Regions from separate parts of the Homo sapiens genome. Here all the other regions are linked to region 1. The links come from fine-mapping of genetic effects on gene expression. A gene starts in region 1. Each other region holds a variant in brackets. All regions are shown on one strand. Distances are between the middles of the regions.

Region 1 (2,749 bases):
CCCTTCGGGTCCTGCAGTCACTAGTCCCCAGGCCTCAAAAATCCGCTAAGTATGTGCTCCACTGGCCGAGCGCCAACGCGCCCTCCCCTCCCCGCCTCCCGGCACCGAGATCAAAAACAGCCGGGTAACAGGACGGGAAAAAGCGAAAGTCGACAGCAGAAGCACCGCACCTCTCCTCACCCGGATCCGACAGGAAATGGCGGCCCGCGTAATGGCGACTACGTGCTACTAGGCGGAGCCGAGCGCCGACCCCCTCCCCCACCCACCACGCGGTCCCGAGGTCTCATCCCCCGCATCCTCCCCCCACTGCCCGAGACAAAGCCATCGAGGCAGCCCTGACCGTTCCATCCCCGCCGCTCCAGCTCCGACCCCGGGCCGGGAGACCCAAGGTGAGGCGGGGCTCACACAAAGAGAGCGGCGGCGCGACCTTCTCCCCGCACCGGCCTCCTTTCCTCCACGAGGTCCCTAGTTCCCAGTGCCACATAGCTCCAGCTCATCCTAGAGGCACATGCCTCACGAATCCCCAAGTCTCTAGGACCACAACGCGGACTGCGGATACACGCTCAGGGAAATGGCGGAGGTGGGGGAGGGGACACCGGGCAACGTTCCCACTCGGAGAAGCGGCCAAACACCAAAGCGGCTCCCAGGACGCCTCCCTCAAGCGGAAAAACTGGGCTCCGACCCTCACCTCCACGAGCCGCTCCCCCAACCCGGCTCCTCACCGCGCGAGACTGCCGTCCCTCCGCTGCCGCGCCGCCTCAGCCGGTCGGAGCTAGACAGAAAACGAGCGCAGGCTCCCCTCCCCCGCCTTCTCGCGTCCTCCCCGCCGTCGCGCCCTATTGGCTGCCAGGGCTTCAGCGATGGTGCGAGGGCGAAGCGATTGGCCCGAGGCCACGTCAATCAAGGCGACGGAGGAGGCGACAACCCCGCCTCCCGCCAGCGCCTCCCTTCGGGCTGGGAGGCCACTAAGGGCTCGAGAAAACCCGGGCTTGGGAAAAGTAAACGCAGCCTTTCAGGGAGCCCCAACCCTTACCCGAATCAGCAATACCCAAGCTCCAATAACTCCAATTACCTATAGGCCGCGAACAAGTGGGACACAGGCAAGACGTCGAGGTCGGTGCAGCAGAGAAACAGAGGATAATGGCGTCTGCAGTGCTGTCGCCTGGAGCGCCCTCCTCCTTTCTCGTTCGCGCACTCACTAGCTGGGGGGAGGGGCGGCTAGGGGGCGAACCTCTCGCGAGATCTAACAACTGCCTAGTTCACGCGCACAGGGAGGGGGCGGGGAAGGGGCGTTTTCCAGCCCCGAAGGAGTCCTTTGGGGTTGGAGGAGGGGCGCGAGCGCGCGGCAAATCGGGCGGGAAGAGGTAAAAAAGGAACTGGGAGCGCGCCGCGGCGGTTCCTGTCCTTACAGTTGCGCTGCCCAGGGACCGATGTTGCGCGAGGAAAATGCGGGACGCCCAGGTCGGTGCTCGGCCCAGACTTATGCCCGTGTTTTCACAGCCCACACTCGTGCCCGAAGCCCCTTACCCCGCCCCGGGCTGTGGTCTGTGGGCTGTGGGACGAGCTGCGGCGCGGTAAGTGCGGGCCGTCTGCGTCCGCTGGGCCGGGCCCACGCTTCGGAAACCCGTTGTTTGTAATGGTCCGGGGCGCCCGTCAGTCAAGGCCGGGCCCGGGGGCGCAGCTGGCGGTTCTCGGCCTGCCTTGCGCCGGGGCGGGAGCCGGGGAAACGCGGGGCGAGCCTGGGAGTACTGGAGAACTTCTCGCCGAGAGGGCACAGGCGGTTTCACAGGGCTCTCGGTTCTGAGACTTTCCTCTTGGGTAATGGGACCTGAGATGGAAGTATTTTGTAGTGTCGTCGCTGTAGTTTATTCCGATAAAATTTTTAGGCAATATGTATTGCCCTTGTCTCCTAAAATGAATGCGTATCGCTGAATACGTTGCAGACCTCCACGTTCCATTCAAAGCGCCTGCCTTGTGGCAGTGATGAAAACAGACAAAAACCCTTGCCCTCAAACGTGCTCCTGTTCTAGCGGGTTCAGCGCACACTTGCATTGTATTCGGTTCCTTACTTTTAAGGCTCCTGTGCCAAGCTTTCATGACTTCCTTTGTTAAGGCACATAAGGTCACTTTCAATCGGTGACAGCCCTGGGAAATCTCCAGCCCTGGTAGTACCCGCTTTCCACATCCTTACTCGTCAACCTTCCAGCCTCCGCCCACAATCCCAAACTCATTTTGAAGCATAAAGGTGTCATAATCTGCACATAAAGCGAAATCCACCATTGGCCGAATACATGCATATATTTTAGTGTTGATGAATTTGTGCTGATTCATTCCTGTTATAATGTTTCCTTCTTGGGTAATTTGCAAAACATATATACCAGCATTCTTTTAAATGGCCATGATTGCATCCACCCAGCATCTTTTACTTGACTGATTAGAGGAAAACTCTTGTTAGGGCGCACTGAGGATTTCATGACAAACACCAGTATTTACATTCTGGGAGGATACGTTAACACATGCTGTTAGAACATAATGTCCGGGATTGTGGAATTTATAAAAGTTCTCTTTAAGTGATAATATAATTTTTTAAATGGTCCCCACCATGAAGAGTGTATAGTCTTGTTGGGTAGGTAAAACTTAACTCGCATTTCAGTTCTAAAACACAAAGTTCAGAATTTTATTAAATATTCAAAACTGATGAGTTTATGTAGGGGCTTAGGATACTTGGATTATAGAGATTTAATCCGCC
Region 2 (2,749 bases), 39 kb after region 1:
TTATTAATTTTAAAATCCTTTCATTTTCTTTTTCTTGAATTATCATTTTAGTTAAATATTGGGCTTCTGGATTGGTCTTCATGTGTATTAACTTTCATCTTTTTTTTTTTGAGACTGGGTCTCGCTCTGTTGCCTAGAATAGAATGCAGAGGCACAGTCACAGCTTGCTGCAGCTTCAACATCCAGGGCTCAAGTGACCCTCCCACCTCAGCCTCCCAAGTAGCTGGGACTATGGGCATGTGCCACCAAGCTTAGCTAATTTTTAAATTATTTGTAGAGATGGAGGTCTCCCTATGTTGCTCAGGCTGGTCTAACTCCGGGACTCAAGTGATCCTCCCACTTTGGCCTCCCAAAGTGCTGGTATTACAGGTGTGAGCCACTGTGCTTGGCCTTAACTTTCTTCTTGGTGTACTTTTTTGTCTTGTTTCTTCTTTCTGAAAGACTTTCTTGACCTTACCTTCTAACCTCTATTTTTTTCAGCCATCAAATTGTTAATCTCCCAAAACTCTTTCTGTTATTTAATTGAATTATTATATTTAAAAATTTAATAGCAGCTGGTTCTTGTTTCATAAATGTAGTATCTTCTGTATATTTTTGAGGATACATAGTAATCTTTTTTTTTTTTTTTTTTTTTTTATGGGGTCTTGCACTGTCACCAGGCTGGAGTTCAGTGGTGAGATCTTGGCTCACTGCAACCTCTGCCTCCCGGGTTCAAGCGATTCTCCTGCCTCAGCCTCCCGAGTAGTTGGGATTACAGGTGCACACCACCACGCCTGGCTAATTTTTGTATTTTTTTTAGTAGAGATGGGGTTTCACCATGTTGACCAGGCTGGTCTTGAACTCTTGATTACCTTAGGTGATCCGCCCACCTCGGCCTCCCAAAGTGCTGGGATTACAGGCGTGAGCCACCGTGCCCAGCCTAATCTTTTTTTAAAAAAGTTGTTTATGTTTTATGAATTGTCTTATGAATTTATCTTTAGTTCTCTTAATACATTCCTCTCTTTTCTTTTGTGTTTCTCATTCACATTACAGATTTTCCTTAAAAGTCTGGCAATCTTTGATAATCTGTCCACTTTTAAGAATGAGGCAATAGGCTGGGTGCGGTGGCTCACGCCTGTAATCCCAGCACTTTGGGAGGCCGAGGTGGCAGATCACGAGGTCAAGAAATCGAGACCATCCTGGCCAACAGGGTGAAACCCTGTCTCTACTAAAAATACAAAAATTAGCTGGGCGTGGTGGCAGGTGTCTGTAGTCCCAGCTACTTGGGAGGCTGAGGCAGGAGAATCTCTTGAATCCGGGACGTGGAGGTTGCAGTGAGTCGAGATCACACCACAGAGTGAGACTCCGTCTCGGGGAAAAAAAAAAAAAAAAAGAATGAAGCAATAGAAAGATTGACTTTGAACTTTTCATACTTGAATGGGCTTCTTGGCCAACAGTGCCCCGTTTAGCTGCCCTAATTCTTCCTAGATGGTTCAATAAACTTCTTTATAGAAAACTGTGTTTACGTTTATTATTACTATTATTCTCT[T/TC]CCTTTTTTTTTTTTTTTTTTTTTTTAAGACGGAGTCCGCTGTGTCGCCCAGGCTGGAGTGCAGTGGCGCGATCTCGGCTGACTGCAAGCTCCGCCTCCCGAGTTCCCGCCATTCTCCTGCCTCAGCCTCCAGAGTAGCTGGGACTACAGGCGTCCGCCACCACGCCGGGCTAATTTTTTGTATTTTTAGTAGAGACGGGATTTCACCATGTTAGCCAGGATGGTCTGGATCTCCTGACCTAGTGATCTGCCCGCCTCGGCCTCCCAAAGTGCTGGGATTACAGGCGTCAGCCACAGCACCTGGCCTATTACTATTATTTTCTGCCTGGAGAACAATCACCTGCTTGATGGATGTTTTGCTTACTGGTTTGTGGGAGTGGAGTGGGCGCTTTTTATATACTCCATATTATACAGGCTGTTTTAGTCCATTTTCTATTGATATAACAGAATACCAGAGACTGGGTAATTCGTAAAGAAAAGAAGTTTATTCATCTCACAATTCTGGAGGCTAGGGAGTCTAAGAGCATGGCTCTGGCATCTGGTGAGGGCCATCCCAGGGCAGAAACATGGAAAGCAGAAGTGAGCACGCAAGACAGAGAAAGGAAATTTGGCCAAACCCCCTCCTTCTAATTACGAATCTACTCCTGAGATAAGAAATTCACTCCCATGATAATAGTAGTAGTTCATTCATGAAGGTGGAGCCCTCATGACCTAATCATCTGTTAAAGTCTCACCTCTTAATACTGTTACATGGACAATTGAATTTCTTTCTTTCTTTTTTTCTTTTTCTTTTTATTTATTTTATTTTATTTATTTATTTTTAGACAGTCTTGCTCCATCACCCAGGCTGGAGCTGGAGTGTGGTGGCATGATCTTGGCTCACTGCAACCTCCACCTCCTGCGTTCAAGCAATTCTCCTGCCTCAGCCTCCCGAGAAGTTGAGATTACGGGCGTGCACCACCATGCCCAGCTAATGTTTGTATTTTTAGTAAAGACGGAGTTTCACCATGTTGACCAGGCTGGTCAACAGCCTCAGCCTCCCAAAGTGCTGGGATAATAGGCATGCGTGAGCCACCGTGCCCAGCCAGGCAATTAAATTTCAACAAGAGTTTTGCGGGGACATTCAAACCATAGCACATGCTTTAAATAATAACCCTGCTTTCATTCCCAGGTCTCATTCCTCTTTTTCATCCTAACTGAATTTTCTGAATCTAAGCATTT
Region 3 (2,500 bases), 130 kb before region 1:
GTGAGGATTTAAGTATCTGAAATATTTCATAAGATTCCTATGAAATGTTATTAGAAGGAAAATGTAGGTGTTAAAAATAGGGCAACGTAGTATTTTTTCACATACTAGAGAAGATCGATGAATCCCTGTAGGAAAACCTACAAGTTCTCTTTTTCCTTTTCTTTTTTTATTTTGGACACAGGGTCTCGCTATGTTGCCCAGGCTGAACTCAAAAGTCTTGGGCCCAAGCGAACCTCCTACCTTGCCGTCCTGAGTAGCTGGGACTACAGGCACATGCCACCATGCCCAGCTCTTCCAGTTCTTTGAACTATCCAAATACATGTTATGTTGGTGATACAAATCTGTGGTAAAGAATTACTTCAGATTGGTGAGATTTGGATATATGTTTCCATATACCCATACCTATTGTGGAGGCCACCTTGATAAGTTCCTGTGGCAGACTATCTTGTCCATCTGCACACCCTTATTGCCTAGCACAGTACCTATCACATAGTTTGAACTCAATATCTGTTGACTTAATGAAGAAAGAAGAGAAAAAAGTTTCATGTGTCCTTGGTTACAGGACCCATGTTATTTCTCTCCACTCCTTCCCCTAACATCCCAAAGGAAAATAATATGAATATTTCTTTCTTTTTTTTTTTGACAGGGTCTCACTCACTTTGTCATCCAGGCTGGAGTGCAGTGGTGGGATCTCAGCTCACTGCAACCTCCACCTCTTGGGTTTAAGCAATTCTCCTGCCTCAGCCTCCCAAGTAACTGGGATTACAGGTGCATGCCACCACGCCTAGCTAATTTTTGTATTTTTAGTTGAGAAGGGGTTTTGCCACATTGGCCAGGCTGGTCTTGGAACTCCTGACTTCAGGTGATCTCCCTGCCTCAGCCTCCCAAAGTGATGGGATTACAGGTGTGAGCCACCATGCCTGGCCAATAGTGTGAATATTTCTGATCTACCTAAAGAAAAATGTTCACCAGCCATTCTATTTCTCTGTGCAATCACTAACCATATGGAATTTGATGGTTTGATAATTGCTCCATAAGGAATAAAATAATATTCACCTTTTCAAGAAAAAAACCCCTTAAATACTAAAATGTACTTAGGTGAATGAATAAGAGGAGCCACAAATAAAAGTGAATTATCCAATATAGAGTAAGTCCTTATCATCAATAGGTTCTTGGAAACTGTGACTTTAAGAGAAACAATACATAACGAAACAAATTTTTTTTCTTATTAACTTTGTAACAAAAGCAACTATGTTGAAGGAAAACAGTGTAATTTGAGGACCTGATGTACATGGTGTCTCTTAAAGTCACAATTTCCAAGAACCTATCCACAATGTTCAGTGAGGACTTTACTGTACTTGACTTTTGAATTTATA[CT/C]GTGACTATATTTTATCAAAAACAAATGTGAAGAGTTTGCCTTTATACATGGCTGAGGACAATTTCGTATAAATTCAGTTTCTATGGTTTTGGATCTAAGTTAAGGAAGTACTGAGATAATATAAGGTAGTGTGAATATAGAAACCCAAGGACAGCCCGCTCCAGTGAGGCTGCAGCATATCAGTGTTTGCAGTTCCCTCTAACTCAGCAATAGGTGTAGGCTGACAAGATACGTGGCAATGGGTAAGTAACTATCCTGGGATGAAAAATTTGCCACAATACAAACCACAGGTTATCAAGAGTTGACTCTGCTTTATGATAGAGCACTGCTTTTCAACTTTAATGTGTACCCAGGAGCTCACTAGAATTCAGATTCTGATCCAGCAGGTCCACTTGGGGCCTGAGGATCTGCATTTCTAACAAGCCTCCAAGTGATGCTGTTGCTGCTGGTCCAGAGACCAAGTAAAATGAAACAAAAAACTAACAACAACTTTTGAGCAAGCACTGCAGAGATTTCCCTGTAAATTTTATGTTCTCGGCAGGGTGTGGTGGTTCAAGGCCTGTAAACCCAGCACTTTGGGAGGCTGAGGCGGGTGGATCACTTGAGGTCAGGAGTTCGAGACCAGCCTGACCAACATGGCGAAACCTCATCTCTACTAAAAATACAAAAATTAGGCCAGGTGCAGTGGCTCACACCTGTAATCCCAGCACTTTGGGAAGCCGAGGTGGGTGGATCATGAGGTCAGGAGATCGAGACCATCTTGGCCAACATGGTGAAACCCCATCTCTACTAAAATACAAAAAACTAGCCAAGCATGATGGCACTTGCCTGCAGTGCCAGCTACTCAGGTGGCTGAGGCAGGGGAATCGCTTGAACCAGGCAGGCGGAGGTTGTAGTGAGCTGAGATCACGCCACTGCACTCCAGCCTGGTGACAGAGCAAGACTCCGTCTCAAAAAAAAAAAAAAAAAAAAATTAGCTGGGCATGGTAGCGCACATCTGTAATCCCAGCTACTGGGGAGGCTGAGGCAGGAGAATTGCTTGAACCCAGGAGATGGAGGCAGTGAGCCGAGATCGCACCACTGCACTCCACCCTGAGTGACAGAGTGAGACTCCATCTCAAA
Region 4 (2,749 bases), 230 kb before region 1:
ACATGCTGCATTATTACAGAACTGACCATATTTACATTTACATTATAAGTGTTACAAGTATTTTCATGTAATGATCCTATATAAAATTCTACTTGGATTACTTATGCTATGGACACTGTTGTTACTGATAGCGATTTTTAATCTATTTTTGAGAGCAAGCTTTTATCAGTTAACTTTCTCAATTTCCACAGTGTTTTATGGGGAGGAAATATTATTTTATTTTTACATATTTAGAATTTATACATCCAATACGCAATGATACTCTTCATTTCTGCACTTAGAAATATATCTTCTAAATAACTTAATTTTTTATTTTCATAACTTTGTTCATTAAAAGACCCACATGGAGATCAATAACATGCACAGGTCTAAATTAATCTCAGGATGTAGACATCTAAATGTCCAAATAATATTTTTCCCCGTATTTTTTTTTTTTTGAGACAAAGTCTCACTCTATCAGCCAGGATGGAGTGCAGTGGCATGATCTTGGCTCATTGCAACCTCTGCCTCCTGTGTTCAAGTGATTCTTGCACTTCAGCCTCCCAAGTAGCTGGGATTATAGGCAAGCACCACCACACCTGGCTAATTTTTGTATTTTTAGTAGAGATAGGGTTTCACCATGTTGTCCAGGGTGGTCTCGAACTCCTAACCTCAAGTGATCCACCTGCCTCGGCCTCCCAAAGTGCTGGGATTATAGGCATGAGCCACTGCGCCTGGCCTCCCCCCATAATTCTTTAACTTCTATTTGTGTAATAGTTAAGTTATAAAAAATATAAGGTTGAACCTACTTCAAGAGTATTCATGTTCTGTTCAACTGGACATGATTTCTGATTTTTACTCATTGTTTGACAACTATTTTGTAATGTAGTTTAAATTTTGTTTGGACAGTTATATTCCAAGTATAGTCATCCCTTGGTATACAATTGCTTGCAGGACATCCCGAGGACACCAAAATCTAAAGATGCTTAAGTCCCTACTATAAAATGGTGTATATTTGCATAAAACCTATGCATATCCTTCTATATGCTTTAAATCATCTCTAGATTACTAGCTGGGCGTGGTGGCTCATGCCTGTAATCCCAACACTTTGGGAGGCCGAGGC[G/A]GGTGGATCACGAGGTCAGGAGATAAAGACCATCCTGGCCAACATGGTGAAACCCCGTCTCTAGTAAAAATACAAAAAAATTAGCCAGACGTGGTAGCAGGCGCCTGTAGTCCCAGCTACTTGGGAGGCTGAGGCAGGAGAACAGTGTGAACCTGGGAGGCGGAGCTTGCAGTGAGCGCCACCACACTCCAGCCTGGGCAACAGAGAAAGACTCCTTCTCAAAAAATAAATAAATAAATAAATAACAATTTAAAAAAATCACCTCTAGATTACCTATAATACCTAATATGGCATAAATGCTATGTAAATAGTTGTTACACTGTTATTGTTTAGGGAGTAATGACAAGAAAAAAGTCTGCACATGTACAATTTCAACAAATATATTTGTGATCCACAATTGATTGATCCACAGATGGGGAACCCATGGATATGGAGGGCTGACTATATCTTCACATCTGAAAACCATTTTTGGTATTTTGTTTTTTCATTTTTCAAGGTGAATTTCACAATTTCTTAAGAGCTATACAATATTCACAGGAGCTATCTTTGGAGTTTCATTAGCATTTATTAACAGGAAAACTGTTGATTAATTTTGTCTATTCAGAGAAAGATTTTCTCCTTTATGTCTTAATCTGTGTTTCTTTTGTGGTTTATAATTTCCTTTGCCTAAGTCTCATACTAAAAAATTAACATATATTTCTTTTTCTATTATGAATGGAAAATTTTCATAAAACTTTCAAGATAAATGTCACTAGGTATATACACAGTGAGAAATGCAACTGATTTGGCAGGCTTTTGTATATCAGCTTTACTAATCTTATCATCTGCAATCATTTTTTTCTATTGATTTCCTTGGCTTCCTGCTGGTAACCTCTTGTCAAAAGTTTACAGAGTAGCAGCAAAAGTATGAAGAGCAGTGGGGAGGGGAGAAGGAAATAAGGAAACAAAAAGGAAAACCTAAAGTGATGACAGGCTGCCTCCTTCAATAACTGAAAAAGCAGAATCCTAAGCAAATGTTAGGCTTGTTTTCCCTCTAAATATAGTTCAGTAAGTTATAAGAATTGAAATTTTAAGAGTTTCTTTTACCTGAATAGTTATAAACTGGTATAAAACTAAGGTGCTGTAAGAGTGACCTGTAATAATAACTTTATCAGCAACTATCCAGCATTTTTTTTTTTTTTTGAGACAGTCTTGCTCTGTTCCCCAGGCTGCAAGTACAGTGGTGCAATCTCGGCTCACTGCAACCTCTGCCTCCTGAGTTCAAACAATTCTCATGCCTCAGTTTCCCGAGCAGCTGGGATTACAGGTGTGCACTACCACACCTGGCTACTTTTCGTATTTTTAGTAGAGATGTGGTTTCACCATGTTGGCCAGGCTGGTCTCAAACTCCTGGCCTCAAGTGATCTGCCCACCTTGGCCTCCCAAAGTGCTAGGATTACAGGTGAGCCACCATGCTTGGCCAACTATGTAGCTTATATCACTCTGGGAAACCTTTCTACTTTGTTGAGTCTTTTTTTCAATTTTTTTTATTGGCACATAATAATCATATATATTTATGAGGTGCATGTGATATTTTGATACAGGCATACAAAGTGTACTGATCAAATAGGTATTTAAGATATCCAGGAACTCAAACATTTATCATTT

The links. PIP is the estimated chance that this variant, and not a neighbour inherited with it, causes the effect.
Region 2: its variant is fine-mapped to the expression of RMI1 in whole blood (INTERVAL, PIP above 0.99).
Region 3: its variant is fine-mapped to the expression of RMI1 in whole blood (INTERVAL, PIP 0.92).
Region 4: its variant is fine-mapped to the expression of RMI1 in whole blood (TOPMed, PIP above 0.99). The same link has a PIP of 0.9 or more in lung.

What each region holds. Positions count from the first base shown.
Region 1 is chr9:83,979,431-83,982,179 of GRCh38, forward strand. RMI1 (RecQ mediated genome instability 1) reads left to right here and starts at 1,375. Exons shown (of 3, transcript NM_001358291.2): 1 at 1,375-1,461. It overlaps HNRNPK (heterogeneous nuclear ribonucleoprotein K), which reads right to left and starts at 785. Exons shown (of 17, transcript NM_031263.4): 1 at 723-785. RefSeq lists enhancers at 59-218, 1,039-1,088, 1,048-1,555, 1,129-1,188, 1,319-1,388 and 2 more and silencers at 759-898, 1,709-1,788.
Region 2 is chr9:84,018,589-84,021,337 of GRCh38, forward strand. No RefSeq gene overlaps it. Among named protein-coding and RNA genes, the nearest start is that of RMI1, 39 kb to the left of the region's middle. The variant T/TC (reference allele first, on the strand shown) is at 1,529.
Region 3 is chr9:83,854,410-83,856,909 of GRCh38, forward strand. The region is part of intron 14 of KIF27 (kinesin family member 27); the gene reads right to left. All of the region lies in intron 2 of LOC124900638 (a long non-coding RNA gene), which reads left to right. Among named protein-coding and RNA genes, the nearest start is that of GKAP1, 38 kb to the left of the region's middle. The variant CT/C (reference allele first, on the strand shown) is at 1,377.
Region 4 is chr9:83,745,372-83,748,120 of GRCh38, forward strand. All of the region lies in intron 10 of GKAP1 (G kinase anchoring protein 1), which reads right to left. Among named protein-coding and RNA genes, the nearest start is that of UBQLN1, 39 kb to the left of the region's middle. The variant G/A (reference allele first, on the strand shown) is at 1,103.